Linked DNA regions of Homo sapiens: all the other regions are linked to region 3. Evidence: fine-mapped expression QTL. A gene starts in region 3. Each other region holds a variant in brackets. All regions are shown on one strand. Distances are from middle to middle.

Region 1 (5,036 bases), 33 kb before region 3:
GACTTAGAGGGAAGAAGGGAGGGAGGCTGCAGGAGAACCAGGGACTTCCCTGCTGTGCTTAGTCAGCCCGGCCCCGCAGGGACGGGCACGGGCTTGGCGTTGCTTTGAGACGTGAAAGTGGGGCTGACTTAGAACGCATCCCAGAGTCCGGCCTCCTCGGGGAAGGAGGAGAAAGGCTGCCGGCGGGACGCTTTAGAGCTCAGACAAATCTCCGACTCCATCCTGGCCAGGTCTGTCCCCTCTCTGCCTCTGAACTTGCCACCCTGGCAGGGGACGGCCTTTGAAAAGATCTACAGAGCCGCATCTGCTGGGCTTTCTGTTAAGCATCTTTCATTCAGGAATGCGTCAGGCCCTTGCAGAAGTTTTGGGAAGAGAGAGAACCAGGTGGTCACTCCTCGTCTGCTGGTTTGTCGGCGGTGTTTTCCAGGCAGCATTTTGGGGATCTGAGTGGAGCCTGTCTTTTTTCTTTCTTTCTTTTTTTTTTTTTTTAGATGGAGTTTTGCTCTTGTTGCCCAGGCTGGAGTGCAATGGCGTGATCGTGGCTCATTGCAACCTCCACCTCCCAGGTTCAAGTGATTCTCCTGCCTCAGCCTCCCGAGTAGCTGGAACTACAGGCACGCACCACAACGCCCAGCTAATTTTGTATTTTTAGTAGAGTCGGAGTTTCTCCATGTTGGTCAGGCTGGTCTCAAACTCCTGACCTCAGGTGATCCGCCTGCCTCCACCTCCCAAAGTGCTGGGATTATAGGCGTGAGCCACCGCGCCCGGCTGCCTGTCTTGTTTTCTTGATGTTGGGTTAACTTCGGCCCTAGACCCAGGAAGCCTCCGGTCACAGCACCCCAAGGCCCTTGCCTGGAATACAAGACTTTCACCCTTGTGTTCGCGGTCCCATGAGGGGTGCTGGCCTCTTATCACCTGTCCGGGGCACCTGAATGATGCTTCTGCCTTCAGGGCACACATGGTGGAAGGGAGCTTGTGGGAGGTGGAAAGGTAAAGAGAGCCTGGTCTATGGGATGGGGAAGGGCCTGACCCTGCCAGGGAGGGAGCGACAAGGAGGGCTCCCTGGAGCGATGAGGGAGGGGCACAGGAGTTTATAGGACACAGGAGTGGGGATGGCTTGAGACCGGCCTCTCAGGTCAGCTTGTTAAAGGTCAGCCTCTGTGCAAGGCTCCTGGAGACCCAACCAGCATGTGCCTGCGGCTCCTCTGGGGCTAGGACTGAGGTTCAGCCACGTCTTGGGTGCAGTGGGATACCTGGCTCCTTTGTCTGCCCCCGAAGGCCCTTGTCTCTGTGCTATGGGGCTAGGCCCTCCCATGACCCCCACGTTTCCCCAACCCTATGGAGTGTGTCTAAGGAAGCAGGTGGAATTGGCCTGGCTCCCCCAGTCTGGGACCTAGAGCACAGCCCGGGGAGCCAGGGCTGCCCTCGCTGGGGATGCCAGCATTCTTGGGAATGCAGCTTAGGGGGTGGCCCACTCACCTGCCTATGCCCTTACCTGGGGCCAGCCTCCTGCCTTCCTGCTGACCGTGTCTCCTTCCTTGCCCTGGCTCCTCCCCACCGCCCCACGTGCCCCACCCCCATCCTCACTGGGCCCCACTGGCGCCTCCCTGCTTTCCAGGTTGAGATTGGTGGGCTGGCTCAGTCCGGTGCGATGGTCGGAGGCATTTGCCGGGTGATGCTGGCTCGGAGGGGCTCTGTCCCCTCCTCTGTCTGCCCTCCCCTCCCCAGCCCAGGGCTCCCTGGCTCCCCGGGCTCTGCTCTAGGCCCCAGACTGGGGGAGCCAGGCCAATTCCACCTGCTTCCTTAGACACACTCCATAGGGTTGGGGAAACGTGGGGGTCATGGGAGGGCCTAGCCCCATGACACAGAGACGAGGGCCTTCAGGGGGCAGACGAAGGAGCCAGGTATCCTACTGCACCCAGAGCTCTGGTGTGGCGGAATCGCTGGTGGGGTCTCAGCTTCTCAGGGCGACTGGCTGCTGTCCCTGCTGGGACATGAGTTGGGGGGAACCCCTACCTGTCTGCTGGGGAAAGCGGCCCTGGGGTGAGCCTGGCCTGAGCAGTGACAGCCTGCAGGGTCCTCTGTCTTCCTGCCCTGCAGCTGATGAGGAGGGAGCTGAGGCCCTGCAGCTCTGAGGGCACTTGGGACCTGGATGGGCAGAGGTAGAAAGGTGTGTGTAGACCTTGGCCCCTGGGTGGGGAGTTTGGCGTTTAAAAGTCTGAAGCAACACCCACACCCCGTCTGTGTCCCAGAACCCACCCTCTTACC[C/T]GGGAAGAACCGGACCGTAACTACCCTGTGATGCTGGACAAAGCCCGTGCTGATGGTCGCCTACTTCCTCGCATGCTTTCTCAGCCCACTCTGCGCCCAGTGGCTCTTGTTTGCCACAGAACCCTGATGAAGTAGATTATCCCCTGCCCTGGGGGAATGCTCAGCTGACAACAGGAGTGGACCCTGTGAGAGTGGAGGCCCCTGTGATCTGTGGAGCGTGTGTGCCCGCTGGGCTGTGATGAGCCAGTGATCTGGGGCTCCGGAGTAGAAGGTGACATTGTGTCCCCAGCCACTGCTGGACCCCAGCAAGGTGTGTGAATCATTTCACACATTCTCCACCCAAGAAGTGAAACTGTCAGGTTTAAGTGTGTGGGGGTGGGAAGGGGAAGTCTGTTCCAAAAGCCCAGCCGTCCGGAGTGACACTGGGCCATCAGCTCTGGGAGGCGGAGGCCGTTTGGGGTCCTGTTCCGGCTTCAGTGCCCAGGTTTGTGTCTTCTGCTTGCTTTCTGTAGCCCTTCTCTTCCAACTAGGGGGATAGTCAGGGTCTGACAAAGGCTTGAGGGGGAGGGCCTCCACCAGCAGCATACCTGGCAGGCAGCCCAGGCCGGGGCGGGGGGCCAGTGGGCTGGATGGGGGTCAGTGGGCAAGGCTCCGTCCTGTCCTGTCCTGTCCTGTCCTGTGGGAGAAGCCTAGGCAGGCACACTCAGCCAACCCCAGCTCAGGAGGGAGGGACCCAGAGGCACTGGCCCGAGGTAGGGTTGAAACAGGTGGAACTGACTGGTGGTCGTTGCTGGCCCCTGGAGCCTGACCTGCCTAACAGTGGAGGTGGCAGATGTTTGGTGGAGAGGAAGTGAAACAGGCGTGTGCGCCAGAAGCCCGGGCGTCGGGGTGGGGCCGCGGGAGGATGGTACAGGGCTCCTGATCCTCCCCGTCTGGGCAGACGCACTCACATCACAGGTTGGCAAAAGGCCTGAGGGTCCAGGGGGCCAGGGCCTGGTCAGGAGGGGCACAGGCGGGGAGGGAGTGGGTGGTGTCTACTTGGCTCTAGATGTCGGGTTTAGAGAGAGACTCTGGGACAGCCCCAGCCCTGGTGGAGCCCCATGGAGCCGCCTTCGGGGGCTCTGTCCCAGAGTCTCTCTCTAAACCGGACATCTAGAGCTGTGACTCAGGATAGGCAGGCCCTGGGGGGTCACCCCCAGCCACCCCATCTGCTTTGAGAACCTAGGAGCATGGGAGAAGCCAGGTAACCCCAGTGACTGCCCAGCGTCCCCCACAACCCGATGGATGAGGAGCCAGTAGGTCAGGAGGGGCAGAGCTGAGGTCAGCACACCTCCGTCCCTGTCTGGCTGTCCGTCTTCCATCCCTCCAGGCAGCACCACGCAAGGGCAGGGAGGTGGCAGGCCTGCTGAGCTCTGTGGATGTGGGGCAGACCCGGCTGGCTTGTTGGAGCACCCTCCCCGGGCGAGTGCTGTTCATATTGGTATCTGCGGAGTGGGTCAAACCACTACAGAGGGCAAGAGGGGAGCTGTGGCCTCTGGCCAGCCACGTTCTAAGCTTTTACAAGGCCCCACCCTGTCCCTCGCAGTCTTAGCCATCAGCTGCCTTTGGAGAATGAGCGATCTGAAGATGTTCCTGGCTGGGGGGCAGGGGTGGCCAGTGCTCCTGGAGCTGCGGGGTGCCCACCCTTTCGTCCGTCCTCCTTCCCCGGCCTGATCCAGGAGCCCCAGCACCGCCCTCTCCATCCCCGGGGTCCTTAGGCTTCCCTGACACAGGTCTCAGGAGGGCATGTGACACTGGCGTCGGTCCGGGCTGGGCAGAGCCTGGATGTGGCCCAGGCTGGGCTGGGCTGGAGCCGAAGCCTTTCTTCTCAGGTCCTGTCATAGCTGTGGGGCCTGGGGCTGGTGACCCAGCCTCTGCCAGCGTCTCCCCACCCCCTCCCACAGTAAGGTTGGTGACAGCAGAGTTCTCTTAAACATTTGAGATGTCCTGTGCTGGCCCGTGGCAGTGCAACCACAGCTCGTAACTGTGGCGCTGGGCAGAGGGCTGGGTACGCAGCAGGTGCTTCGTCAGTACTGATGGGAGAAGCAGGGACGGCAGGGGGCGGGGGGACCTGGATGGGCGACACTCCCCAGCCTGCTGGTGCTCCAGGGAGGACCTTTTCAGAGCTGGGAGACCCTGGCTCAGTGTCCTTGTCCCTCCAGTCGCTGCTGCCTTCCCGAAAGCCCTGGAGCCTTGTTAAAGAGGGCAGCCCTGGCTCTTGGGGGGAGTCCTGGGTTTGGGGGCGGCTCTGATATGGGGGAGCCGTGGGTGTGGGGGCAGCTCTGATATGTGGGGGAGCCCTGGGTGTGGGGGCAGCTCTGATATGTGGGGGAGTCCTGGGTGTGGGGGCAGCTCTGATATGGGGGAGCCGTGGGTGTGAGGGCTGTGCCTCACGTGGCCCGAGGGCAGATGGCCCAGTGTGGGGCTGGGCTGTTTGGGGGGATGGGGAGGGCTGCCCAGGGAGAAGGTGAGTGGGTGGCCCTATTATCTGAAGACCTGCTGGGGCCAGGGGATGTGGGGGGTGGCTGCCACCTCTGCAGTGACCCTGGAAGGGCCCATGCTGCCCCTGCTTTGCAGGTGAGTAAGCGGGTGTCTGAGAGTTCCCAGCTCTGCCTGCAGGGCCCATGCCCTGTGGCTACCCCCCAGTCCCGCTCTGTTTGCTTTATTTAAGTATTTTGGAAGATCACTCCTCAGCCTCATGGGGTGGATCCTTAACTCTTCTGGCCCAG
Region 2 (5,036 bases), 27 kb before region 3:
CCAACACTTTGGGAGGCCGAGGCAGGTGGATTGTCTGTGGTCGGGAGTCTGAGACCAGCCTGGCCAAGATGGTGAAACTCTGTCTCTACTAAAAATACAAAAATTAGCCAGCATGGTGGTGGGTGCCTGTAATCCCAGCTACTCAGGAGGCTGTGGGATGAAAATTGCACGAACCTGGGAGGCGGAGATTGCAGTAAGCCAAGATCGTGCCACCGGACTCCAGCCTGGGTGATAGAGCAAGACTCTGTCTAAAAAGAAAAAGAAAAAAAAACAAACAAACCCAAAAAACAGCCAGAGAAGGCAAGAGCCCTGGAATGGCCTAAGGTGGGAAACTGCTGCCCTCTCAGCCGCGGGGTCCAGTGTGTGATAGTGAAATCTCTCGTTATCTTAAATTCTCTCTTCAGGGACTTAAACAGAAATTAACAGGGCTGGGTGCAGTGGCTCATGCCTGTAGTCCCAGCACTTTGAGAGGCTGAGAGGGGGAGGATTGCGTGAGCTCAGGAGTTTGAGAACGGCCTGGGCAACATAGTGAGACTCCATCTCTACTAAAAATAAAAAATTAGCTGGGTGTGGTGGTGCATGTCGTAGTCCCAGCTCCTTGGGAGGCTGAGGTGGGAGTTGGGGTTTGTTGTTTTGGACAGATTTACCAAATTCATTTGGACGACGTTACTGAAGCTCCATGAGGCAGAGGCTAACGGACATTGCTGAAGTCCTAGGTTGCATCCCTCATAAAGGCCACCCCCGGGCCGTGCACGGTGCCTCACGCCTGTAATCCCAGCACTTTGGGAGGCTGAGGCAGGTGGAATACCAGAGGTCAGTAGTTGGAGACCAGTCTGGCCAACATGGCAAAACCCTGTCTCTACTAAAAATAAAAATTAGCCGGGTGTGGTGGTGGGTGCCTGTAATCCCAGCTACTCTGGAGGTTGAGGCACGAGAATCGTTTGAACTCGGGAGACGGAGGTTGCAGTGAGCCAAGATCAAGCCACTGCACTCCAGCCTGGGTGACAGAGCGAGACTCTGTCTCAAAAAAAAAAAAAAAAAAAACCCAGAAAGGCCAACCCCCGCACCCCTCAGCCCCCGCACCCCTCAGTTAGCCATGCCCAGGGACAGTCAGAAAGCATCTGTGATATCAGTGGACATTGGGGCCCAGCCCAGGACTGGTGTGTCCCCTCCTGTGCCTGCAGGCTTGACACAGCAAGGCCCTCCCTCTCGCCCCCAAGTCCCCACACTTGTCAAGGGCATCACGGCACATTCCAGGAAAGTTGGTTGATGTCACGGGAGTCGAGACCTCATCCTGACGCCCAGCTCAGCAGGGCCACCGGGGCTCAGGTTAGGTGGTGCCATAGTTGGGGGACAGTCCCCATAGGGTTGCGCCCCCAGAGTGCCCTAGGGAATGAGGCCCACTGCTACTGCCACCAGCCCAGCTGGCATAATTGATAAATAAGTGTGGTTCTTTTAAGTTGGGCAAGTGTGTATTTTTAAATAACTGACTGCTTAATTGTACGATTAAAAACAGCAGAGCTGGGTGCAGGGGTGCGTGTCTGTGGTCCCAGCTCCTTGGGAGGCTAAGGCGGGAGGATCCATAGAGCCCAGGAGTTTGAAGCCAGCCTGGGAAACATAGGGAGGAGGCCCTGTTTCCAAAAAAAAAAAAAAGGATGAAGTGGGCTGTTAGCACTGAGTCATGGCGAGCAAGGTGAAGAAGCCCCACTGTGGCTGTGTGGTGAACTCAGTCATTCACAGCCGGGAGGGGCTCGATTCAGTTACTTTCCTGAATGTTTTCACTGTTCCGACTGCACCAGGGAGGAACCACATCCTCTACGCCTGCAGAAGCAAAATTTCTCTCCCGAGAGTCTTGGAATTCTGCGGCCCACATGTATGGTGACCAGCTCTGCAAGGGGCTTTAAAAACCCCAGTGTCGGCTGATTTGTTGGCTGACACC[G/A]CGCCCGGCACCTCCAGGATGTGGCCGGCATCGTGGAGGGGCTGCTGGCTGCCTGCCTTGCTTTCAGTTCCACATGGAGACAATGACTCTGCTGCACTGAGTTTCAAGAATTTTGGCAATAAAAAGAGCCTATATGACCTATTTATGAAGTATTCCAGAATCACTTACATGAATATTTTGTCCTAAATTCTGTATAATTAGAAGATATAAACCCCACATTGTGATTATTTTTGTTCACCAACATAACCTAAATTAGAACTCTCCATGCGGGCTTTCAGAAAAGAAAGCATTTGAACAAAAACATAAAAGGAATTGGTTTTATCCACACCGTTCTCAAATACTTGAGAGTAACGTGTTTGCTTAAGTAACATCGATATCTTGTTTACTGTTATTTGATTTGCAGACCTTTCCTCTTTACCAGTACCAGTAGCAGAAAGGTAAATTGTACTGAAACGTTTAAAAAGTCGTAAGTTCTGACTTTGAGGCCTGATGAACCATCACGGGATTCTCCCCTGCCTGGTTCCTTTTCCCCGGAACCTCACATCAAGCAGAAGCTTCCTTGCGGGCGGCCCTTGTTGCAGGCGGTCTTGGCGAGAGACATCCCCATTTCTGCAGCTGGACGGTGAAAGGGACGTTGTTGTTCTTGGCCATTTGGCAGGTGTTCTCTGACTGCCTCTTCTCCGCTGGGCCTGCCGCACAGGGAGGGCAGGTGGGACCGCCCCCCAACCCCTGCCGCAGGGCCTACCGAGAGTCCCATGGCGGGCGGGCAGAGGTGGGCTAGTGTTGCATTAAGTGACTTCCCGTAGCAGGCTGTTCAGTGCTGGGGCAGCCTTCTAAGGGAGGAGGCTTGTGGGCTGAGACCTCTTCCCTTTTTCATCATTTGGGCTTCCGGGGCATAGAATGGGATGCGTCATTGGCCTGGGGTCTGTGCTGCTGTTGGGCGTCTGTGCATAGTCCTCTTTTGTCTATTTTCATTATTTTTATTTATTTTTTTGAGATGGAGTCTTGCTCAGTCACCCAGGCTGGAGTGCAGTGGCGCGATCTCAGCTCACTGCAACCTCTGCCTCCTGGGTTCAAGTAATTCTCCTGCTTCAGCCTCCCAAGTAGCTGGGATTACAGGCGTGCACCACCACCCTGGGCTAATTTTTGTATTTTTTTAGTAGAGATGGGGTTTCATCATGTTGGCAGGATAGTCTTGAACTCCTGACCTCAGGTGATCTGCCCGCCTCGGCCTCCCAAAGTGCTAGGATTATAGGCGTGAGCCACCTCACCCAGCCATATTTTCGTTATTTTTAATAATGTAATGGGAACCTCTGGGCTCACCGTCAAGCAGAAGCCAGCCTTGATACCCAGCATCCTGCCAGCCCCTCCCCAGCATCCTGCCAGCCCCACCCCAGCATCCCGCCAGCCCCTCCCCAGCTGCCCCACGCCCGGCTCCTGCCCCAGCTCTGTGTGTCCTGTGCTCTCCCTTCCCCACCACCCTATGCACACCTTTCTCTGCCTGGGTCCACACTGTCACCTGCTGTAGCTCTACCCACAGGCCATACCTGCCTGGTGGGCCCCTCCTCCCTGCCCCTGTTTTTGTGGAAGGACAGGTGGAAGTGGGCGGGTGGGGTGGGTATGGTGGGTGATGATAAAGAGCATTCTAGGCCAGGGCAGGAATGCAAGCACATGGGTGTGAGGGGCCAGGTGTGTTCAGGGATCCTTGGCACTTGTGGGGTGGCGGGAGCACTGGCCAGAGGAGGGCTGGGGTAGGGGGAGGCTCCTGGCCCTCTGGGGGGCCCTTGGTAGAGGAAGGGGCATTGCTTGTGTGGGTGGTGAGGGACCTCTGGTTGGGTGGGGGGGGTTAGGTGTTTTAGGAGGCTTTGGGTACAGAGATGTCCAGGGGTAAAGTGGAGCTTGGTCTCAGGACAGTTGGCCCTGGCATCTGTCCTGCCCTGGGGGGCTAGGAGGGCCGGACTGGAGATGGAGGCTGGGGCTGTCCTGGTCCCAGGTGAGGTGGCATCTCCTAGGAGGGAGGAGAGGGTTGGTGCCCTGCAAACCCTGGGGGAGGGGCAGCACGGGGAGCTGGGGTTGGGGGTGAGGAGGGGCGCCCCACATGTTCTGAAGCGCTCTGGAGTGGCTCCAGCCCGGCCAGCACTAAGTTTTGCTGTCTGTGGTTTGCTGTGCCTGTGTCCGCTGCTGGTAACCAGTGCATCGGGACTTGGGCTTTCTGACTGCACCAGGTTTGTTTCTGCTGCTCTGAGTGCGGTGCCCAGTCACCGAGGTACCTGTCGTTCCCGCCTCCTGTGGACTGCGTGGCCTGGCGTCGAGGCAAAGCAGCAGGAAAGTTGGGTCCGCATCCCAGCCCCACATGCGGCCCGGGGGGAGAGTGTGCCTTTCCCCTGGAGACACACAGGGTGGGGGAAGTGAAGTCAGTGGCAGGCACCCAAGAGGGGCACGTTTTCAATCCCAGGGTGGGCGTGGGTACTAACTACAGGTAGAGACCATGCGACGCAGCGGGTCTGCACGCCTCAGGGTTCTGGAACAATCCAGACGGGGACATGGGGGAGATTGGCCACTGGGACTGGTGTTTCACTTGGCTGCCTCTGGACATAGTGTCTCTTCCGACTTTATTTTCCTGGGTTGTGAATCTCCCTTTTATGCCACAAAGGTCCCCCACCCAAGGGACTCTCATCCTGCAGCCCATGGGCCTGGCCCTGTGTCTGGAAAGGGGAGGTGGCGCCCTGATGTTCTGGGCCTGGTGGTCAGTATGGGCACAGAGGTGCAGGGGTAGAGGATTCCACATTTTGAGAGAAAAACAGGCGCCCCTCAAGGCAGCTCAGCCCTAGGTGAGGTTGGCTTTGGGCACACCCATGGGAGGCCCCTCTTCCTGCCCTGAACCCTCTGAGCGTCACCCCTCCCACCCAGCCACCAGAACAGCCTTTCCAGCTGCCCCTCCAAGTCATCGCAGGGACCCCTGCGGCCGGTCAGGGGGCCAAGATGGGGACACCCAGAGAACCACAAGCCCAGGCCACACAGGCAGGTGACTGCATGGGCAGGTGAGCACCCCATCTGACAGGTGCCAGGGTGAAACACGACTTGTCCAGATCCCCGG
Region 3 (5,036 bases):
TCACAGTGCAGAAGGCTCAGCTCCCCACATGGGGTTCCAGCCTGACCCTCGTATGACTCAAGCCTGAAGATACTTTGCCAAGGGAAGGAATTCAGGTTTCTTCCTGGAGAAACATCCCAGATCACTGAAGGCTTGTAGTTAAAAGTTTTTGTGTATTCAGGGACGCTGTGCTTTGGCAGGGCCCAAGGCAGAGTCCATGGGTGTCCCTAGTCCATGGGTGTCCCTTTCTCTTGAGGCCTCTGGCAGAGGAAAGAAAGCTCAGCTGGTGGCTGCGGGCTCAGGCTGGCGGGGACCCCCCAGCCGTGGCATCTGGGCTGCCTTTGTGTGTCGCTCCCTCACTCTCTGAACAAGTGTTTGTCACTGCCCACCACGTGCCAAGCTCTGCAGAGGGAGACTCGGGTGCCTGCAGCTCGAGTCCACCTGAGCATCACCGGCAGAGCCGAGCCCCTGGAGACTTAGCCAGACACAGCCCCTGCCCCGGGGGAGCACCAGGCGGGTTCTAACCAAGCAGGACTGGAGGCACAAGCGCTAAACAAGGAAGCCATCAGGGCAATCCAAGGACCCCACGTCAAACCAAACAGGATGGTGGAATGACAGCGGGCGGCGCCTAGGGAATGGGGCAAATGAGCGACGTCCCGGAGCCAAACGTGTCGGGCCCTGCAGTGGGGACAGAGGCGGTGGTCGGAGGGTTGCAAAGGGGGTCGGCAGAGCTGCAGCCAAGCCTAGATGAGCCAGAGCTGATGAGGGTGTCGGGGGAGCAGCCGTGTTGACCCGGGTGCGTGGAAGCCCCTGGAGAACTTTGGCAGGGGCGCTGCAGAGGCTGATTTTGCCTTTGAAGGCCTCACCATGCTTGCCATGTGGAGAAGGCTTCGGGAGGCACGCGGCTGCCTGGACCAGGCTGGGGTGGTGGGGAGAGGGGAGGCACGCGGCTGCCTGGACCAGGCTGGGGTCGTGGGGAGAGGTGGACAGATGTGCAGCCCCGTCTGGAGGCGTGCGGCCGGCGTGCGCTGCAGGTTGGCAGTGGAGTGAGGAACGGGGCTATCAAGGGCTCTTGAGGGTTTCACCCAGACAGCTGGTGGACACGGTGCCATCCAGTCAGAGTGCCCCTTGAGACCCGAGTCTGTGCCAGGCGTGGCATAGTTGAGATACTGGTGAGCTGTCCGGCTTGGAGCCTGCAGGGAGGCCAGGTCAGGGGGCAGGGTTGAGAGCAGCCAAACACCCGGATACGGACATCAGCATTTGAGGCCGCCTGACTGTGCCCAGCTGGCAGGACTGAGGCCTGAATCCAGGGAGGGGATGAAACTCCTGGACAAGCCTTGAGTTTGGGGCAGCACACATGTCATCAGTTGTGAGCCGACCTCTTGAGGCTGATGTTGGAACAATAGTGGCCAAGGTCGGGCACGGGCTGGAAGGGCAGGATCTGCAGTCTCAGGACCCCAGAGGGCCCAGGGAGCTGTGTGTGTGCTGGGTCCTTGGGCCTCTTTGCATCAGGAGTTAGGGAGGTGCAAGTATGTGGCTGTAAGCATGGGGACATTGGGGTGGATGTTTTTGTTTTGTTCTTAGAGACAAGGTCTGGCCCTCACCCAGGCTGGAGTGCAGTGGTACGATCGTGGTTCACCGCAGCCTCAAACTCCCAGGTTCCCAGGCGATCCTCCTGCCTCAACCTTCTGAGCAACTGGGACTGTAGGCACGTACCACCACGCTGGCTCATGTTCTTATTTCACTTTCTGTGTCACTGCATTGCCCACCTCAGCCTCTCAAAGTGCTGGGATTACAGGCCTGAGCCCTGGTGCCTGGCTGGCGATGGGGTATTGGTAGAACCAGGCCTTCTTTGCTGGCCGCCCCCGGTCCTCCTGTTCACTCTGCAAAGCCCTGGAGTCTGCCAGCTGCCCCATCCTCACGTCCTCTTCAGCTGCCCAGGTTGGCTGTCCAGCTGCTGGTCTAACCTCCATCCAGGCCTTTCTGACAGTGAGGTTTAGGGGCTACCTTCCCTAGAGGACTGAGACTTGGAGGAGGGCCAGGTGGGGGCTGGGGCCCACTGCAGTGGGGGTGGGGGAGGTGTGTCTGTGTCGCTCAACATCTGCGAGTCCCCCAGGGACATTGCTTAGGAGGGCTGGCGGCTGTGGGAAAGCGGATGCTGTTTATCCCAGGATCAGCAGGAGAGCCGCCAGATAATAAGGGGATGAAGGGCGTGCCAGCAGCCGGGCCCTGATGTGGAGGTCAGCTGTGATCCAGGGACCCAGAACTCGGAGAGGAACTTTAGCAGGGGAGATGGTGTGAAGGAGACACGGCTCAGGGCAAGCGCCAGAGACCAGGAACCACTTTTTTTTTTTTAAATCTTGGGCTGGGGAAGGGGAAATAAAGTCCTTTGCGGTTTCTGAGTCCAGGGTTCCCTAGACACTGTTGCCTTTGTGTGTCCAGAAGCAATTCAGCGGTTTCCAGAGCAGCATGCTTTTGTGTTCCAGGGCTGGCTGGCCCAATTCCGTCCTGCTTGCAGAGAGGGCCTGGAGCCTGGCCGGGCGCCGCCCTGAGCCTGGGGGATCCTGGGAGAACCTGGACAGCCGTGGTGAGCCCTGCTGCCCTGCTCTGGTGCACAGGACTGGAGTCCTCCAGGCTCCAGGGCAGCAGACACCACCCTCTCCGTGCCTGCTGGTGTTGGGCGGCTTGGAGGCTATGGTTCCTGGGTCCTCGTAGCACATCCTGGTTCTGGGCCAGGACCTGAAGGAGCCACAGTGAAAGAGTGTTTCTGGATGTATCTGAGACAGACGGAGGTAGGGGGCAGGGGGCAGGGGGCAGGGGGACATGGTAGGGCCCATCTGAGTGGAAGCCCCAGCCTTGGGAAAAGCTGCTACTCTCTGGGGCAGTGGTCCCAGCTACCACGTGCTCTTCTGGAGCCATCTTGATCTTGAAAGGCAGGCTCCCTCCCAAGGCCGGGTGCAGGCCAGACCCCACCGGTAAAGCACCTGCGCAGCCCGGGGCCAGGGGTCCAGTGAGGAAGGGTGGAGGCCTCCTGAGAACCTGGCCTGGTCAGGAGGGCCGGCAAGAGGAGGAGCCTCCCAGGAAGCCCCTCAGAACCTGACAGGACGAGAGGAAGGGAGGCCGATCTGAGAGGGAGGGAGGCCCATCCGAGAGGGAGGAGGCCGATCTGAGAGGGCCGCATGGCTCGGAGTTGCAGGGGCCCTGGGCTGCCAGGGGTGGGCCTGTAGGTGCAGGTGGAGGGGCTGGTCCTGGGGAGAGCGGCTGGGCTGCAGGCTGAGGAGCTGGGCTTCCTCCAGGGACCGTGGAGGGGGTGGGGATGGGCAGCTAGAAGTGGGGAGGGCAGGGGCCGTCTGGTTGGGGATGCGCGGCTGCAGCACGCAGGACGGAAGGTGCAGGTGAGACGCAGGTGGGCGGTGTCGGGAGACCCGGGTCTGGCCTGAGGTGCAGCCTGGAGCTATGCTCAGTGTGTAGACGGGCCTTGGTTCCTGCATCTGTAAGTTGGGCGTGTGCTGGGTAATAGTGTCCTCCCCCAAAATTCATGTCCACCTCGTACCTGTGGACCCGACCTTACTTGGAAATGGCTCTTTGCAGATGTCACTGAGATGAAGTCACCCTGGTGTACAGTGGAGCACTCTTCAGTGCAGTGCGGGGGCTGCCCATGTGGCCGTGGAGGGCACCCCTACCCCGGTGCAGGCGCAGGCTGGAGGCGTAGCCCGGGCCCATCCCTGGCGGTGTGTCGCGGAGGGCACCCCTACCCCGGTGCAGGCGCAGGCTGGAGGCGTAGCCCGGGCCCATCCCTGGCGGTGTGTCGCGGAGGGCACCCCTACCCCGGTGCAGGCGCAGGCTGGAGGCGTAGCCCGGGCCCATCCCTGGCAGTGTGTCGCGGAGGGCACCCCTACCCCGGTGCAGGCACAGGCTGGAGGCGTAGCCCGGGCCCGTCCCTGGCGCTGTGTCGCGGAGGGCACCCCTACCCCGGTGCAGGCGCAGGCTGGAAGTGTAGCCCGGGCCCATCCCTGGTGGTGAAGGCTGGAAGGTCCATCCCTGGCAGTGTGTGGTGACATGTGTCGTGACATGGAGTTTGATTCTTAACTGACCGAAGCTTGAAAAGTCTGTCTTTTTGATGGACCCAGGGAGTTGGGTGAGGAGGGTGGTGGAGTCAGTGGGGCTGAGAGCAGGGTCGTCTAGGACCCTGATGTGTGGACGCCCTCCCCAAGGGCCGCTGTGAACCATCCAGCAGGATGACCCTGGGTTTGGGGCTGAGCCGGTGGCTGGGAGAGCAGACTGAGGAGTAGCTGGACACTGGCGGGGCACGCATTGCATTCTGATGGTGACAGGCGGGACACTCAGGGCCTTTGTCCCCTCTCTCATTGCCTCATTTGCTTGCCTGAGGTGATTGGGAAGGCAGCCCTGGCCTCGGAATTACAGCCTCCCAGACAAGGGGGCTGTCCTCTGCCCAGAGCCCTGCAGGCAGCCAAGAGTTCTGTGCGTGTCCAAGCGTGTCCCCTGCTTTCCTTGGGTGGAGGCCAGCTCGGTGCCCTACACAGGGCCTGCAGGCCCCAGCGCCCGGGTCATCCCCTCCGCTTCCCTCTCAGCTGCCGCAACCAGGAGGACTCGCCGGGTTTTTGAAAATGGAAGGAAGTAGGTTTTACATTGCTACACTTCCCCTAGCCCGTTCATCCTTCCTTTTTAAACATTAAAAAGCAGTAAAAATGGTGGTTACCGGGGGCTTGGGGAGGGCATGGGAGTTCCTATTCAGTGAGCAGAGTTTCAGTTAGACAAGACGAGTCCGGAGGCAGCCGCTCAGCATCACAGATGTAATTTATGCCACGGAGCTGCACGCTAAAAACTGGTGAAGTTGGGCTGAGCACGGCGGCTCACGCCTGTAATCCCAGCACTTTGGGAGGCCGAGGCGGGTGGATCACGAGGTCAGGAGATTGAGACCATCCTGGCTAACATGGCGAAACTCCGTCTCTACTAAAAATACAAAAAATTAGCTGGTGTGGTGGCGGGTGCCTGTAGTCCCAGCTACTCGGGAGGCTGAGGCAGGAGAATGGCGT
Region 4 (5,036 bases), 47 kb before region 3:
TCCATTAAGCCATGAATGGATTAGTCCATTTATGAGGGCAGAGCCCACATGATCCAATCACCTCTTTATGGCCCCACCTCTCAATACTCCCCATGTTGGAGATTAATTTTTTTTTAAGACAGGATCTCACTCTGTTGCCCAGGCTGGAGTGCAGTGGCACAATCTTGGCTCATTGCAGCCTCCAACTCTTGGCCTCAAGAGATCCTCCCATCTCAGCCTCCCAAAGCACTAGGATTACAGGCAGGAGCCACCTCGCCCAGCCGAGGACTAAATTTCAACATGAGTTTTGGAGGTGACAAATGTAGAAAGTAAAAATTCCTCTTCAAAGTTTCCCTTCTTGTTAAATAAATCATAAGTGTTAAAAATAATAGTTTCTTTGAAAAACTAACTTCCTTCAAGCCTCCTTGCTTTGTGCTAATAACTCTTTGTTAAGCCCTAGCCTATGTAGCTGCTAAACATGCTCACAGTCAACATAGTACATTCTATGTCCTGGAACCTTAACCAAGATATTTGTGCTGTACCTGCTCACAGGCATGCTCCCGCTTGCAGCCTATGCCCCTTCCCTATTTGGCATAAGCAACTTCCTCTTTTCCTTTGTCTTTCCATTACTTTTACCTTTTTAGAAAAGTTTTAAACTGTTAGCCAATCGGGTTTTAGTTTAGATTGTGAGGTCTGGCTGCAGCCAACGGAGACAGGACACAGTAACAGGGACAAACGCGTAAGGGATAAAAATTGCTTCCCTCCTTTGTTCAGGTGTGCTGTCGCCATTGTTCCATCTGCGATGAGCACCCTTTCTGCAGAAAGTAAAAATGGCCTTGCTGAGATAATTAAATTTATGTTTGAGTGCTGTTTCTTTGCAGCACTGGGGAATGAGCACTCTGTTTCTAGATAAACATTTTACATAGAACACAAATATTCAAAGCACAGCACCCCCTCCCACCTGCTTATCACCCAGAGGCCTCCAGTCTATACCCAGAAGAGCACTGATGGGATCCTGTTGTTCCTGCTTGAGACCCGGCCATGGCTCCTTCCTGCCCTGGGATATGGGCTGTCCTTCATGGCAGCTCCTGCTTTTTCCCAGCTAAACAGAACAAGTGGAGCTCTCTCTCTTCCCACCAGGCCTTTGTATATGCTGTTCCCTCTGCCTGGAATCCTCTTCCTACTATCTTATCCTAGTTAACCTCTGGTCACTCCTTGGCCTCTCTTAGAGTATCATGGCCTCCAGGAAGCCTCCTCAGCCTTCTGTGGCTCTCTGTCTCATCACTGACCACACTGTGACTTCATTGCCTGCCTGGCTCTGCCTCTCTGTTGGATAAGAAGGCCAGGGGACCTTCTTGAGTGTTCCTCCTTGACACACGTCCACAGCATAGGGCTTGGCACCAAGGAGAGGTCAGGATAAGTTCGTCCCTGGGGTGCTCTCAGCCTCAGTTCGATTCTCTAAAAATGATGAGGTTGGCCAGGCACGGTGGCTCAGGCCTGTAATCTCAGCCATTTGGGAGGCCGAGGCGGGTGGATCACCTGAGGTCAGGAGTTCGAGATCAGCCTGGCCAATATGGTGAAACCCAAACCCCGTCTTTATTAAAAATACAAAAATTAGCCAGGCATGCATGGTGGCACACGCCTGTGGTCCCAGCTACTGGGGAGGCTGAGGCAGGAGAATCACTCAAAGGCAGAGGTTGCAGTGAGCCAAGATTGAGCCACTGCACTGCAGCCTCGGTGACAGAGCAAGACTTCGTCTCAAAAATAAAATAAAATAAAAAAGATGAGGTTGTCCTGGATCCCTTCTCCCAGCCATGACCCTTATGGGGTGCCTCCCACATGCCTGTAGCAGGGGAGACTGGGGGTGGACTGCCCGCTGACCCTCCCATGCCAGGGCACAAGGACCCAGATGCATCTGGAGCTAAAACACTTCTAGCTCCTGGAATTTTCAGGGGTGGGAGGCAGGTGTCAGCACAGGAGGGGCTAAGGAAGCACCACCTTCCCACTGATTCCTGGCAGCAACCCGGTGCCAGGAGTGGTAGCAAAGGTGAGAGTGAGGCCGCCTCCTGGGAGCCCTGACTGTTGAGGAGTGGGACTGGGCCCCTCAGCTCTCTGGCTGGGACGCTGCCATCTCTGGCCCAGAGCTGAGAGCCACCAGCTGCTGCTCTGTTCAGTCTCCTATAGGAACCCCAACTCCCAGCCTGGGACTCTTCGCCCAAACCTCTCACTGCTCCAGATCCAGGGGCCTTCCTCCCTAGCCCTGGCCCCACCCCTTCTCCCCTAATCAGGATGAAAATAGCAACCGCCGGCACTTCCCAGTGCCATTTGGTGCCAGGTGCTGCCATCTCTGGGGGGTGGCGACGAGGTGATGTGGGGAACGGCCTGGAACCCAGAGTTTGCACACCCCGGGGCTTGGAGTGCTTCCTTCCCACCTCTCCTCGGTGGCCCCGGGCAGGTTCCTGAGCCCTCTGTGCCTTGGCGTCCTGTGTAATAAAATATGCGGTTTTGTGCATGTGGAGTGACAGCCTGGATACTACATGCCAAGGTACGAACCTTCCAGGTGCACCTGCTTGGTTCCAGGTCCCGTCTCAGAAGGTGAGGGGGGGCTGGGATATGAACTCGGATTGGCCTGCCCCTGACACA[C/A]CCCTGCTTCTCATCGACTTATTTCCATGCCTTTGGCCACAGACAAACATAACAGGATGGCCTTGAGGAGCCAGTGGACAGTGCGGGGGTGTCAGGCTATATGGAGAGCCCTGCTACCACTTGTCACTGGTTCCTCTCGAGTCCTGTCATCTTGCCCCCGATTTCCCTCAAGGCTCTGAGGCCGGGAGGCACGGGTCTGAGGGCCCCGCTGGCCCCTGGTGTGAGCAGGCTCCAAGCCTCCTTCCCAGGCCACCCACCAAGCTCAGGGCTCCGCCGTGCCCACTCGGAGCAGCCCTGCCCCGCCATCCCTGTGTCCAGTTCTGCTTTGAGCAGAGGAGCAGGGAGCTGGCGGTGGCCTTGCCATCACCAGCTATGTGACCCTTAGGGTCTGGCGGCCACTCTGAGCCTGTGCCCTCGTGTGAGTTTGCCAGGGCTGGTGTAACCAACACCACAGACAGGCGGCTTACACAACAGAACTTCATTTCCTCATGCTTCCAGAGATTGAAAGTCTGAGATCAATGCGTCTGCAGGGCTGGTTCCTCCTGAGGCCTCACTCCTGGGAGTGCAGATGCCGCCTTCTCTCCGTGTCCTCATGCAATCCCCCCTGTGTGTGTCCGTGTCCCCATCTCCTCCTTTTATGAGGACACATGTGCTGTTGGGTTAGGGCCCACCCTCAGGGCCTCATTTACCTTCATCGCCTCTTTAAGAACCCTGTCTCCAAATGCAGTCTCATTGGGAGGTATGGGAGTTAGGACTTCAACAGATGAATTTTTTGGGGGACACAATTCAGCCATAAACGCTGCTCTGTAAATGGGCTAATAGGATGGCTGTGAAGAGCCACGGAGCAGGGTGGTGGGCACCACGCAATATCAAGTGTCCCCCTTTGTGGGGTGTGTGGTCCGTGCCTGTCCATCAGGCAGGGGCTCTGTCTGACTCTCTGCACTGCACCAGTTTTGCGCCCCTACCAAGCAGGGACTGGGCACCGAGCAAATGTCTGGAGGGTGGGCCAGATATGAGGGGCTAGGCATGCTGGGTGCCCTCGTCTGGTTTCCCTTTGGCTTCTGCCTGCTCACTCCTAATCCTGGCCGTTCACAAAATGAACATTTCTTGGGCGCTTGCTCTGTGTCGCGCTGTCTGCTGCAGCCCCTTTTCTGTTGGGGTACTGCCTGCCTCAGCCCCAGTGGTTCAGATGGCACTGCCAGTCACAGCACCCTGGCCTCTGCCCCCGCAGTCCCCTTGGCTCAAGCGTGGCACATGACCAAGCAGGGCGATGAGAATCCTTCCAGGAGACTTGGTGGAGGGGTGTGGGGCAGGAGGGGGTCTCTCTTTGGGATCGCTGCTGTGAGGATGGAGGCTTTTTCTCCACTGGGAGAAGCAGAGAGGTTCGGAGATGAGAGGTGAGAAGCAGCAGGTGTCCTGCTGGCAGAGAGACTGCCACTGCTGCATCCGCACAAACAGGTTGCCTTTGGGGCTTGGCTGAGGTGAGTCATTTGTGTACAAAATGACCCGGACAATGACACAGCCTGGCCAAGGTCTTGAAATGTGGGGACAGCAGCGAGGGACTCGCACAGGAAAGCTCTGGGCCTTTGCTCCCAGGAGCAGCTCACCTGGGCTGTCAGGGAGAGTGGAGAGAGGAGACAGGAAGGAGCACAATCAACAATGAAAACGATTAAAATGTGGTCACAGTGCTGGGGCAGGAGGTGCCCTAAGGGCCCCCCCCCTCCCCCAGAGCCTTGGCAGGTGGAGTCCGGGTTCATTTCTGACCAGGCTGGCTCAGGGCTTCCTGGAGTGGGCAGCTCTGGAGCTGGGCCTGGCAGGCTGGGTAGAGTTAGTGTAGGGCAGGTACCCCTGGGAGGATATGGCCAGAGTAGGGAGCGGTAGGCAGGAAAGTAGAGCTTGTGTTTGGGAAAAACAAATCCTGTTTCCCTGGAGGACAGAGATAAGGCAGGAAAGCCTGGAGGGTTTGGACAGCGGGGAGGGGGAGCCAGAGAGGTCTGGCGGTCAGGCCTGGTGCTGGATGGGGGCTCTGGGCACAAATGTGAGTCATCTCCGCCATCCTGGAAAGAGACGGTCCTGCAGACAGCGCGCCATCGCACCCCATGCTGCCTGCGGAGGCACAGGACAGACGCCACTGGGCAGCCCTTGCGGAAGCGCTGGATCCTTTACCCTGAAATCACTGGGTCCCCAGTTCTGCAGACAGGAACCTGAGCCTTGGAGAAGTACAGCTCACCTGAGTGCCTGCCTCTAACCCAGGTCCATCAGGGCTAGACCTGGAGGGGGATCAAAGAGAGGCCCTGAATCTTGCCACAGGGAGCTTCAGGTGCACTTGAGCTGGGGCCCTTGAGACAGAAGGAAGTGGGGAGGGCGGATCCAGGTCTGGAGTCTTTGGATTGAAAGGTTGGAGATGCCTGTGG
Region 5 (5,036 bases), 41 kb after region 3:
CCTGACATCTTTGCTCTTGTTTGTGGGTCCCATGTGGGACCCTGAGTGCTCACAGTCTCCTCCCTCACCCTGCCCTGCGCCTCACAGTGCCGCCAGCAGGAAGCAGGTCATTCAGGACCCCAGCGCAAGTTACAAAGCCAGTGCCCTCCTGTCTCGCTAACACCACGAGGCTCCGTGTCCCTCTGCACAAGTTCAAACTGGTGCCTGGTACATGAGGCCAGGGAGCTCAGGCCACTCACCTCTGGCTCCCAGGCCTCCCGCTCAGCCTCCACTCCAGCAACCTCCTGCTTCGGCCTCCCTCTCAGCCTCCACTCCAGCAGCCTCCTGCTTCGGCCTCCCTCTCAGCCTCCACTCCCTCAGCCTCCCCCCTCAGTCTCCACCCTCAGTTTCTGCCCAGCCTCCCCCCAGCATCATCTTCAGCCTCCGTCCTCAGACTCCACTCCCTCAGCCTCCCCACTCAGGTTCCACTCAGCCTCCCTCCAGCCTCCACTTAGCCTCCCTCCAGGTCTCCCACCTCAGCCTCCCACCACCATTGGCCACACCTTTGTCTGTGGCCCCCATGACCTGCATGGATGGCTGTCACCAGTTAGGGAGGCACACGGCATCTCTGGGACACCCCAGCTGAGCACTGCCTGCTATGAGCGCTCCGGGGGCCGTGTGTCATTGTCAGGACTCCAAGTGTCGCTGCTTAGCTGGCCCTGAGGAAGCGGCTCCCTTCAGCACCCTCAGGTTTAGTGTGTGGGAAGACGGGGGATCCGCTGGGCTGACTCCCACTTCTTCCTTGCCCGCCTCCTGCAGGTCAGCATGACCTTGTGGAGTGCCCTGGGGGGCTCATGTGGGGGCTCATGTGGGGGCATCCAGCTGGTGTGGGGGAGGGAGAGGCCTCACTTTCCTATTCCGCCCTGGCAGAACCTCCCAGACCAGAAATGGGTGCATGGGCCTCGGCAGGCGCTTTACCTGATGCTGAACCTTCTGGGAAAATCCACAGAAGCTCAAAGCTTAAATTACATTTAATTATGTAGAGTTGCAACAGAGACCTGACCTGCCACGCTGGGAGATCCCAGGGACAGGTGCGGTCCCCAGGCATTTGGCCACAGTGCCATCCCCGCCACGGGACGCTGCTTCTCCCCCGGTGGCTAAGGTGGCCTGAGGCTGTCCCCGTGGCCCTGCTCCCTGTGTTCTGTTTCCCATCCTCTCACTCCCGCCAGCCCCACTCCAGGATCTGGTCCTCATCTTTTACCAAAGCCCCTTGGTGGCAGGTGTGCCCAGCCCGGGTCAGCTGTAAGAACGCAGGGAGCCCCATCTCGCACAGTCTCTGCCTTGGGAATGGGTGGGGAATGGGCAGTGAAGGAACATCCAGGCTGTGACCCAGGAAGTGGAAGCTGAAGGTCCTGGGAGCATTAAGGGCTCTCCCCTGCTTTACATGGGGGCGGCGCTTAGGAACCTTCTGGAAGCCTGAAGGAGGAGGGGTGAAGGAAGAGCAGTCCCAGGCAGAGTGACCTCCTCTTTCCTTGTCGTCCTGGTGCAGATCTGGGGTGGGTCTGGGTGGCTGTGGTCTGTCCAGGGTGGGTAGGTGTGTGAGGGCACACACAAACATGCAGACACATGTGCGCACACACTGCACACACACATACCACACACTCTGAAGCTGCAGGATTAAAGCACAGCAGTTCTGTTTATGCAAACCTCTATTTTGGTTTTTAAGAAAATTCTCAGAAAGTCACCTTGGTTTAAGGCTACTTGTCAGTAGGCAGAGATTCTCTCCATTGTGGATCCAAAGTCCCCTGAAAACCTCACTGTCTGCTTCCTGCCCGCTGCTTACCTGGCCGTGCCCTGTGTGCCCTGTGCTCCGCCCTCTGTTCTCTTCTCAGGGTTTACTCCTCCCCCAGCTTCCTCCCTCCCCACTCCCGCTTCCCAAGAGTTAGGAAGGTTAGGGGCGACCACACAGCACTTGGCCCGGTTCTGTGCTGCACCTGCTCACAGGCCTTGGCTGGAGGGGCTGGGTGTGGGACGGAAGCAGACCCTAGTGGCCGTCTAGTGCCCCTGCCCAGTCCAGGCAGGTCGCTGGAGTAGGCTGAGCTGGGAGCTGGGTACAGGCTGCTGACAGGTGGCACCCAGCCTGTGGCCTGGCTTGGTGCCTGATAAACACATGTGTGTTGATCAGTATCTTTTCATTAGCAGACGGGTTGGTGATATGAGAGTATTCTGAGTTTAATGATGTTGAAAGAAGCAAGTGTGCTAAAATGAATAGGAAAGGAAAGAGTGGTGAAAGATGCTGGTTGTTTAAAAACAAAACGTGTGCCTGTTAGGAAGGCAGCTCTGTGCTTGCCTGGATACGCTCGGAACCAGCATTTCAGCAGTGGAGACTCTGGAGAGAGCCCTGCTGTCCCTGACCTCTCCTGTGCAGTACA[C/T]GGTCGCGAGAGCCCTCGGGGGTGCCTGACTGGGCATGGAGTTTGGAACTAACAGACCTCTTGTCTCTTCTCTCCCTGCTTTTTAAGAACCGAGGAGCAGATGGCTCAGCAGCCCCCAAAAGGGCAGGCCCAGGCCAGCAATGGAGCAGGTACACCCTGGTGGGCGGGTGGACAGGCAGGCGGGCGGGTGGGTGGCTGCGCGTCACCTGCTGGTTCTGTAGGCCCAGGTTAACAATGGAGCAGATACCCCCTCCCCCAGCAGGTGGGCAGGCGGCAGGTGCTGGTTCTGTGCCCAGGCACCTGCTGGCATCCGGGAATCTCCTCCCGTCAGAACTGGGTTAGTGTCTCTGATGCGAAGTGGTGAGTCATCATAGTCGTCATCACAAATTTCCAGTCACTCAACTAAAGCGTGATTGTGTGTTCTTTGGGGAATACACACGTACTCTGTTTCAGCCTTGCCCCACGGAACAGTGATGTGAGAGCCACGCTGGTCACTGCCGCTGCCCTGGTGCCTCCCCGAAGGGGACCAAGTGGGCAGTGGGGCTATGGTTGGCTGTGAGTGGGGAGTTGGGGGTTCATGTGCCCTTTTATCTCTCTCCTCGTCCTCCATCCCTGAGTGCCTGTTCTTTATCTTGCCCCACGCCCTGCAGGCAGCCGGCATAGTTCCCTGTACCTGGGGGTCAGCAAACTCCAGCCCCCGCCTGGCTTCACAGATTTAAATGGTTTCATTTCATGACATGAGAACGTAATATAAACCTGAAATTTCAGTCCATAAATAAAGTCCATGGGAACACAGCCGGGCCGGTTCACTTACGGCTGGGACGAGTGTGCCGATCTCACCTGGACCCTCCCCTTAAAAACTCTGCCAGGCTGCCTTGGGGGCGGGAAGAAGCCGCAGGAGCCTGCCCTGGCCCCATCCTCCCTGCCCGGGTGGCCTTGGGGTACACAGACCTCAGCCCCCTTGGCCTGTGGCTCTTGAGCCTCTGCCCTGAGCCTGCAGCCCCCTGGGTATGGTGACCACAGGCCCTCTGGTCCCAGGGCCCAAAACTTTGGCGAGGCAGCACCCGCTGCAGGCGGCTCCTCACTGGCCTTCTGAAGGGAGGGACTGGCTTGCACCCCTGAGCCCCCCTTCCGAGGGATTCTTCCGGTTTCCCGCCGTGGAGGCTGCTTTCCAGAGGTGTTCGCTTTTGGTAAACATTGCTGGTCATCAGCACGACAACACCGTGCGCTCACCCTGGGCTGGCTGCGCTCGCCAGGCACCCCCAGCCCAGGACACAGCCTCCCGCTGCGCCATCCATTGGCTGATGCTCAGGATATGCAGGGCTGGGGCAGTGACCTCTCCATCTGCTTTCTGACAACCCGGAGGTAGAAAGGGGGTTTGATGCAGACGTCTGAGGTGGGCCGAGCAGCCTGGATGGACAGGCTGCCCGCTGACGAGAGCCCAGGGCGGGCAGAGAGCTGGGGACAGGGATGAAAAGCAGAGAGACCCGGCACTGAGGTCGTCATGGCTGGGGCAGCTCTGCTGTGTGCCGGTTGGTTTGCACTTGGTGTCTTCAGAGGACTGAGCCCTTCAAAGTCCCTTGTACAGGGACCCTTCATTTCCCTGACCTACCCCCGAGCATTCCTTGTGCCTCTGCTGGCCGCGCCCTTGCAGTGAGGCCCCTCCCTGCCCTGAGATCCCGGAGCCGACCCCAGAACAGGCAGTGCAGCCCTGCCGTGCCCTCACCGGGTCCCTGCCCCCTGCAGAGCGCCGGAGCCAGGGGCTGTCCTCGCGCCTGCAGAAGTGGTTCTACGAGCGGTTTGGGGAGTACGTGGAGGACTTCCGGTTCCAGCCCGAGGAGAACACTGTGGAGACAGAGGAACCCCTGAGCGCCCGCAGGTAGGGGTTCGCCGAGCTGGGGCTGCCTGTGCGTTAGGGGCCCCGGTCCCTGGGCTGAGGCTGCAGCGGGTGGGCCATCCTTTATCACCGTGGGCCAAAGCTGTCTGTGAGGCTGCCGAGAGCTCCTGGAGGCTCCGCTGTGTCTGGTCTTCTGGGGGCCGTGCCTGGCAGGGGCTTGCGAGGCCCGCTTAGGTGCAGCAGAGCTGCATGCGCGCACTGCTCTCAGCTGTGGCTTGTGACAGTTGTGTGGGGACTCATGGGGCTCAGCCCACTGCCTGGGGCCTTCCTTGGCTCTTGAGTCCCATCAGTAAACCTTGGTTCCCCTGCCAGGTGCTGCCATAGGCCCTGGGGGTCCCGAGGGAGCTAGGTCAGCAAAGGCCCTGCCCTTGAGGACTTCTGTTCTGGGGACACAGGCAGGAGATGAGGGGACGATTTCATTGGCGAGTCGCCCCTGCCTTCCTAACTTGGGGAGTGGCACTGAGGGCCATCCCGGCGCACCCTGCTGTGCTGAGCCGCCGTGCATGGCCATTCTGTGCACTCAAGGGGTCCCAGGCTGTTGAGACGTCCTCCCTGGCCCCTGCAGAGCCAACGGAACCGGGCAGTGGGGACTGCAGAGCCGGCGGGTGCATTAACCCTGGGCTCCCATCTCTCCCCTTCTCTCTTAGGTTAACTGAAAATATGAGACGGCTCAGTGAGTACCAGCGGCTCTGCGTGGCGCCCACGATGCTCAGTGTGGGTGGGGCCCA
Region 6 (5,036 bases), 22 kb before region 3:
GACCCTGGATGCTCTCCGTGCTGGAAGCGTTGCTTCAGTGCATTAGGATGGGTTCACTTTCTCGTAATTCACTCTGAGGACACGTTGTTGGAATCATTGTGCATAGTTCTGGATCAGCACCATGACGGGAGGTCAGAGGGCTGCCTGGCGCAGTTTCTCTGCTGCCTGGATTGACCATGAGGACAAGGACTAGCTGTGCCCAGCCCCCTGCTTCCCGTGGATAGGGACTCTGGCTGCTGGCTCGTGCCATCGGGGCTGGAGTCTTAACTGGTGAAATCACATTTATGAGGCTGATAGCCATCAGTTTCCACAGACGTAAGTGTGGCCAGGATGACAGATGTCCCTGGCGGCCCTTTCTGCAGGGTCCTGCAGGGACTCCAGGGCCATCTGGCCACAGTCCCGAAGTCTTTGTCACCATCCCTCTGTGGGTGGGTGCTGGTGCCTCCTGGGCTGTTGAGTGCTTGGCAAGGGGCTCGAATGGCCTTTCTCTTCTCAGTTGAACCAGTTGATAGAATCCTGTTTCCTTTTGGAATTTAGAGATTAGCCTTTTTTATTTTTTTCTGAGACGGAGTCTCATGTGCTCTGTTGCCCAGGCTGGAGTGCAGTGGCACGATCTCACAATCTCAGTTCACTGCAACCTCCATCCCCATAGTTCAAGTGATTCTCCTGCCTCAGCCTTCTGAGTAGCTGGGACTACAGGCACATGCCACCACACCCAGTTAATTTTTGTATTTTTAGTAGAGACAGGATTTCACCATGTTAGCCAGGCTGGTCTTGAACTCCTGACCTCAGGTAATCCATTGGCCTCAGTTTCCCAAAGTGCTGCAATTACAGGTGTGAGCCACCATGCCTGGCCCAGATTAGGCTTTAAAAATAGCATTCTTTTGTCCTCTTGGGGCCTTTTTTCCACCTGTCACTGAGACCTCCACTCCTTTGCAGAGCTTGGATGGCTGCAGGGCTGGCTTAGCTGCTGCCTCCAGGTGGGATCGGGAGCCACCCTTCTCAGCGTCCATCCATCTGTCAACCTGCTGGACTGGTTAAACCAGGTCTCCACGCCTGCTTTCGATAAGTCCTGCCCTCCCCTGGGAATCGGCGGCCAGACCTTTGGGTCCTTTGGAGAGCTGCAAAGTGGCTCAGCAGGAGCGAGAGGTTTCCTTGGCTGCTGGAGACTTGCAGGTGCCAGGTGTAGGCCCTGGAGGTGGCACACAGACCAGCTCCTGCTCAGTGCCCTGTGTCCCTCCTGGCAGGAGGCATACTGCTAAGCAAGGCTGTTTTAAAGAGGGTTTGTTTAAGTTGGATGTTTAGGAGGTTAGGTTCCCCCAAGGAGAAAATGCTATGAAGCCCCCAAAGGCGTATGGGGATGAGATGATGTGGTGAGTTGGAATCTTCTTTAGATCCAGAGGAACTTCTTTGGGTGGTAGTTACCTCTCCTTCTCTCTCTCTTGCTCAAGTTTCAGGTGATTTTCTGGCCTGGTTTCATTTATCTATCTATCTATTTATTTATTTATTTTTTGAGACGGAGTCTCGCTCTGTCGCCCAGGCTGGAGTGCAGTGGCGCGATCCCGGCTCACTGCAAGCTCCGCCTCCTGGGTTCACACCATTCTCCCGCCTCAGCCTCCCGAGTAGCTGGGACCACAGGCACCCGCCACCACGCCCGGCTAATTTTTTGTATTTTTAGTAGAGACGGGGTTTCACCGTGTTAGCCAGGATGGTCTCGATCTCCTGACCTCGTGATCTGCCCGCTTCGGCCTCCCAAAGTGCTGGGATTACAGGCATGAGCTACCACGCCCGGCCTCTGGCATGGTTTTAATTAGGACAAAAACAAGTACAGTTTGATTTGCAAGTTACCCTTCTGGGGGCAAGTTTAGGTGACACGTTGGTTTTGTTTTGTTTTGTTTTTACCATTATCTGCTTGTAGAACTTGCCTTTAGAGCACTGTACAAGGTGGCATTTTTTTAGTCCATTAGGTTTTGGCATTGGCGGCCTTTTGTTTTGTTTTGTTTTTGAGACAGAGTCTTGCTGTGTCGCCCAGGCTGGAGTGCAGTGGCACAATCCCAGCTCACTGCAACCTCCACCTCCTGGGTTCAAGTGATTCTTATGCCTCAGCTTCCGGAGTAGCTGGAATTTCAGGTGCATACCACCATGCCCAGCTAATTCTTTTATTTTTAGTAGAGACAGGGTTTCTCCATGTTGGCCAGGCTGGTCTCAAACTCCTGGCCTCAAGTGATCCTCCCGCCTCAGCCTCCCAAAGGGATAGGATTACAGGTGTGAGCCACCACACCTGGCTGGGTGGCGTTTTTTTGGTGAAAATTTAATGAGAATTCTAGGGAGATGTTTGGGTGTCTTGCTGCTCTGGTAAGTGGAGTGAGGGAGTGTCTGTGAGATGGAGAGCGGGAGGGAGGGGTGGATGGACTGGTTATTTGCACCTCGGTGTTTGTTGCCAGAGGATTCTAATTGAGCAAGCTGTAAGACCTTGTCTAGGATGAGTCCTGGCCTGAACGCCTCTAAGTTGCTTTCTCTCCCACTTTGGAGAAAAGCAGTTCTGGTTACCGGCTTGATTTGCTGTGATTTGCTGACTGCCGGCTCCTGGCTCACCTGTGGGTCTAGGTGGTAGCTTCTGGTTAGTTGAGGTATATGGGGGTCTGCTTGGGGGAAGGAGCTTGTTTAGAATGTGGGGAGACCCTGAGGTCAGACAGGGCCTGTGGTGCAGCTCCGAGCTCCTTGAGGGCCAAGTATACCCGAAATTGGAACTAGGAGCTGACACTGAAAGCCAAGTCCTCAAAATCCGTGCGGGCCAGCGGGGAAGGATGGAGCTGGCCTTGTCTGGAGAGCACGCTTAGCAGCTACATGGTGGGTTTCAGGCTGGGACTGAAAGAAGGGGAACCAGGAGGGGACATGCATGGGAAGAGGGTAACACAGGAGACAGGAGCCGCCCTGCACCCAGAGGGCTAGGGTTGGGGGTGGTGGGACTGTGAGCTCCTCTGGTGGCCTCCGGTGCCCACCAGCTCAGTGCCCTGCAGCACCCCCGGAGGAGGATGGGGGTCCCAGGGAACTGTGTGACACAGAGGCCGTGACAGAGATGGAGGATCAGATCAGGACATCCCAAGTCCTTGACAGAACCCCTAGCACACAAGAAGTAGATTTTTGGAGCCTTTGTTAACAGATGGG[A/G]CCACTGGGGGTCAGATATTTCTGCTGTTGAGCCACCCTGGGCGCAGACAGGGCCTGTGTGTGAGAGTGCTTGCGTTGTCAGTTACGCAATTTGCAGATGGCTCGTGATTTTTCAGACGTTGAGCTGGTCGTTTCATAGTTGTGCTTTTAGATACTAAGTTGTTTTTTTTTTTGAGACGGAGTCTTGCTCTTGTTCCCCGGGCTAGAGTGCAGTGTCACGATCTTGGCTCACTGCAACCTCTACCTCCCGGGTTCAAGTGATTCTCCTGCCTCAGCCTCGCAAGTAGCTGGGATTACAGGCTCCTGCCACCATGCCCGGCTAATTTTTGTATTTTTGTATTTTTAGTAGAGATGGAGTTTCACCCTCTTGGCCAGGCTGGTCTTGAACTCCTGACCTCAGGTGACCCACCCGCCTCGGCCTTCCAAAGTGCTGGGATTACAGGCATGAGCCACCATGCCCAGCTGATACTTAAGTTTTTTTGAGAATTAAAATTACCTAGTGAAAAATTACCTAGCAACCTGCATTTAATGTATTAGCTCCATTCTCTGAAATGAGCATCTTGGTTCTGTCTGGAAGATGGAGATTGAAATGTTTCCACAAGTCAGCACCATCGAACATGATGGCCCCACATGCCTACGAGTTCCATGGTCGCCGTCGCTGGAGCAAAGGCGTGTTGTGAGGTGTGACTGCTTTTGCAGAAAAGTGACCATCGGAAGGCTTTCCCCACGTGGGGACTCCTTAGTCCTGAGTCAGTGAGAATCCCAGGTGTGTCTCACCACCGGCGGCACCTTCTCCCTGTAGGACTGTCTGTCGAGTGGCTGACTGTGAATCTCATCTGACCTTAAGGCCACCAGGAAGCTTGCTGGTTATTTGTCAAAGGGTCCTGCGGAGAGTGGAAGAGTCCTTTAGTCATAAAAGGATTCTTCCTGAGGTGTCTGTCTTGGGAATCGACTGTTTTATGCCTCGATTTTTAAAGGCTGGTGACACCTGTGCCCTTCTGTGAGAGAATCACCTGCCTGTGACCAGTGCCCGCAGCTGTCACCTGGAGCTGTCACCCTGTTCCAGTGGTGGGATGTGGGCCACTGCTGAGGGTCTCCTAAAGCCCCATCAGAGAGAGCGTGCAAAATGGAAAGGGCCCCCACAGATTTGCTTAAGCAGAGGGGGGCTTTGCCAGCTTGGGGCCAGGGGCCTGCGGTATGGAGCTGCTTGGGGTGCTCTGGCTGGGTCGCTGGTCTCCCCTTCTTCTGACGTGGTGCTTTTTCACCCTCCACGCCTCCTTCTGCTTCCCTTGTGGCTTCATTCCCGTGATGAGGCAGAGCATGTGATTGGCAGCCCCTCACCATGGGATGGGTAATTCCCCGTGGAGAGCAGGGTCCTTACCAAAAGAGGGACAGGGATGCTGAGTGGGGGAAGCACAGACAGTGCACAGGCAGGCATGGAGGAGACAGCGGAGCAAGGCGGCAGGTGCGTCCTGTACACTCAGGTGCTAAGCCCCGGTCGCAGAGCCCCTTACAGCCTCAAGCGATGGAGGACACTGGCGAGTCTTTGTGCATGTGGGGTGTATTCATTGCCACTCGCTATTAGAAATCAAAACTAAGAAATTTAAAAAGATTTATTAATTTACTGAAATATGCAACTATAAATCTATTACATGTTAACATAAATAACATGTCTTTCTTTAAAAAGAAATCACTACTTGGGGCCAGGTGCAGTGGCTCATGCCTGTAATCCCAGCACTTTGGGAGGCCAAGGCAGGCGGATCACAAGGTCAGGAGTTCAAGACCAGCTTGGCCAATATGGTGAAATCCCGTCTCTACTAAAAATGCAAAAATTAGCCAGACATGGTGGCAGGTGCCTATAGTCCCAG

Alleles and levels. Positions count from the first base shown, and alleles are read on the strand shown. Sizes are in standard deviations (SD) of each study's normalised expression. Not every link is listed here.
For the expression in subcutaneous fat of the gene that starts at base 2,592 in region 3, allele T in region 5 goes with a lower level than allele C (small effect, 0.22 SD a copy in GTEx).

Evidence for each region. PIP is the estimated chance that this variant, and not a neighbour inherited with it, causes the effect.
Region 1: its variant is fine-mapped to the expression of GRAMD4 in tibial nerve (GTEx, PIP above 0.99).
Region 2: its variant is fine-mapped to the expression of GRAMD4 in whole blood (TOPMed, PIP above 0.99).
Region 4: its variant is fine-mapped to the expression of GRAMD4 in pancreas (GTEx, PIP above 0.99).
Region 5: its variant is fine-mapped to the expression of GRAMD4 in subcutaneous fat (GTEx, PIP 0.95).
Region 6: its variant is fine-mapped to the expression of GRAMD4 in subcutaneous fat (TwinsUK, PIP 0.95).

The regions. Positions count from the first base shown.
Region 1 is chr22:46,584,720-46,589,755 of GRCh38, forward strand. It overlaps a transcript of GRAMD4 not described here. Among named protein-coding and RNA genes, the nearest start is that of GRAMD4, 33 kb to the right of the region's middle. RefSeq lists enhancers at 1-540, 1,529-2,516 and silencers at 3,007-3,056, 3,407-3,456. The variant C/T (reference allele first, on the strand shown) is at 2,269.
Region 2 is chr22:46,590,809-46,595,844 of GRCh38, forward strand. It overlaps a transcript of GRAMD4 not described here. Among named protein-coding and RNA genes, the nearest start is that of GRAMD4, 27 kb to the right of the region's middle. RefSeq lists a silencer at 2,695-2,754. The variant G/A (reference allele first, on the strand shown) is at 1,940.
Region 3 is chr22:46,617,795-46,622,830 of GRCh38, forward strand. It overlaps GRAMD4 (GRAM domain containing 4), which reads left to right and starts at 2,592. Exons shown (of 19, transcript NM_015124.5): 1 at 2,592-2,771. RefSeq lists enhancers at 624-1,391, 3,820-4,331.
Region 4 is chr22:46,571,033-46,576,068 of GRCh38, forward strand. It overlaps a transcript of GRAMD4 not described here. Among named protein-coding and RNA genes, the nearest start is that of LINC02925, 32 kb to the left of the region's middle. The variant C/A (reference allele first, on the strand shown) is at 2,623.
Region 5 is chr22:46,658,883-46,663,918 of GRCh38, forward strand. It overlaps GRAMD4 (GRAM domain containing 4), which reads left to right. Exons shown (of 19, transcript NM_015124.5): 5 at 2,499-2,560; 6 at 4,158-4,290; 7 at 4,956-4,981. Among named protein-coding and RNA genes, the nearest start is that of GRAMD4, 41 kb to the left of the region's middle. RefSeq lists an enhancer at 2,976-3,559. The variant C/T (reference allele first, on the strand shown) is at 2,412.
Region 6 is chr22:46,595,995-46,601,030 of GRCh38, forward strand. It overlaps a transcript of GRAMD4 not described here. Among named protein-coding and RNA genes, the nearest start is that of GRAMD4, 22 kb to the right of the region's middle. RefSeq lists an enhancer at 2,938-3,437. The variant A/G (reference allele first, on the strand shown) is at 3,169.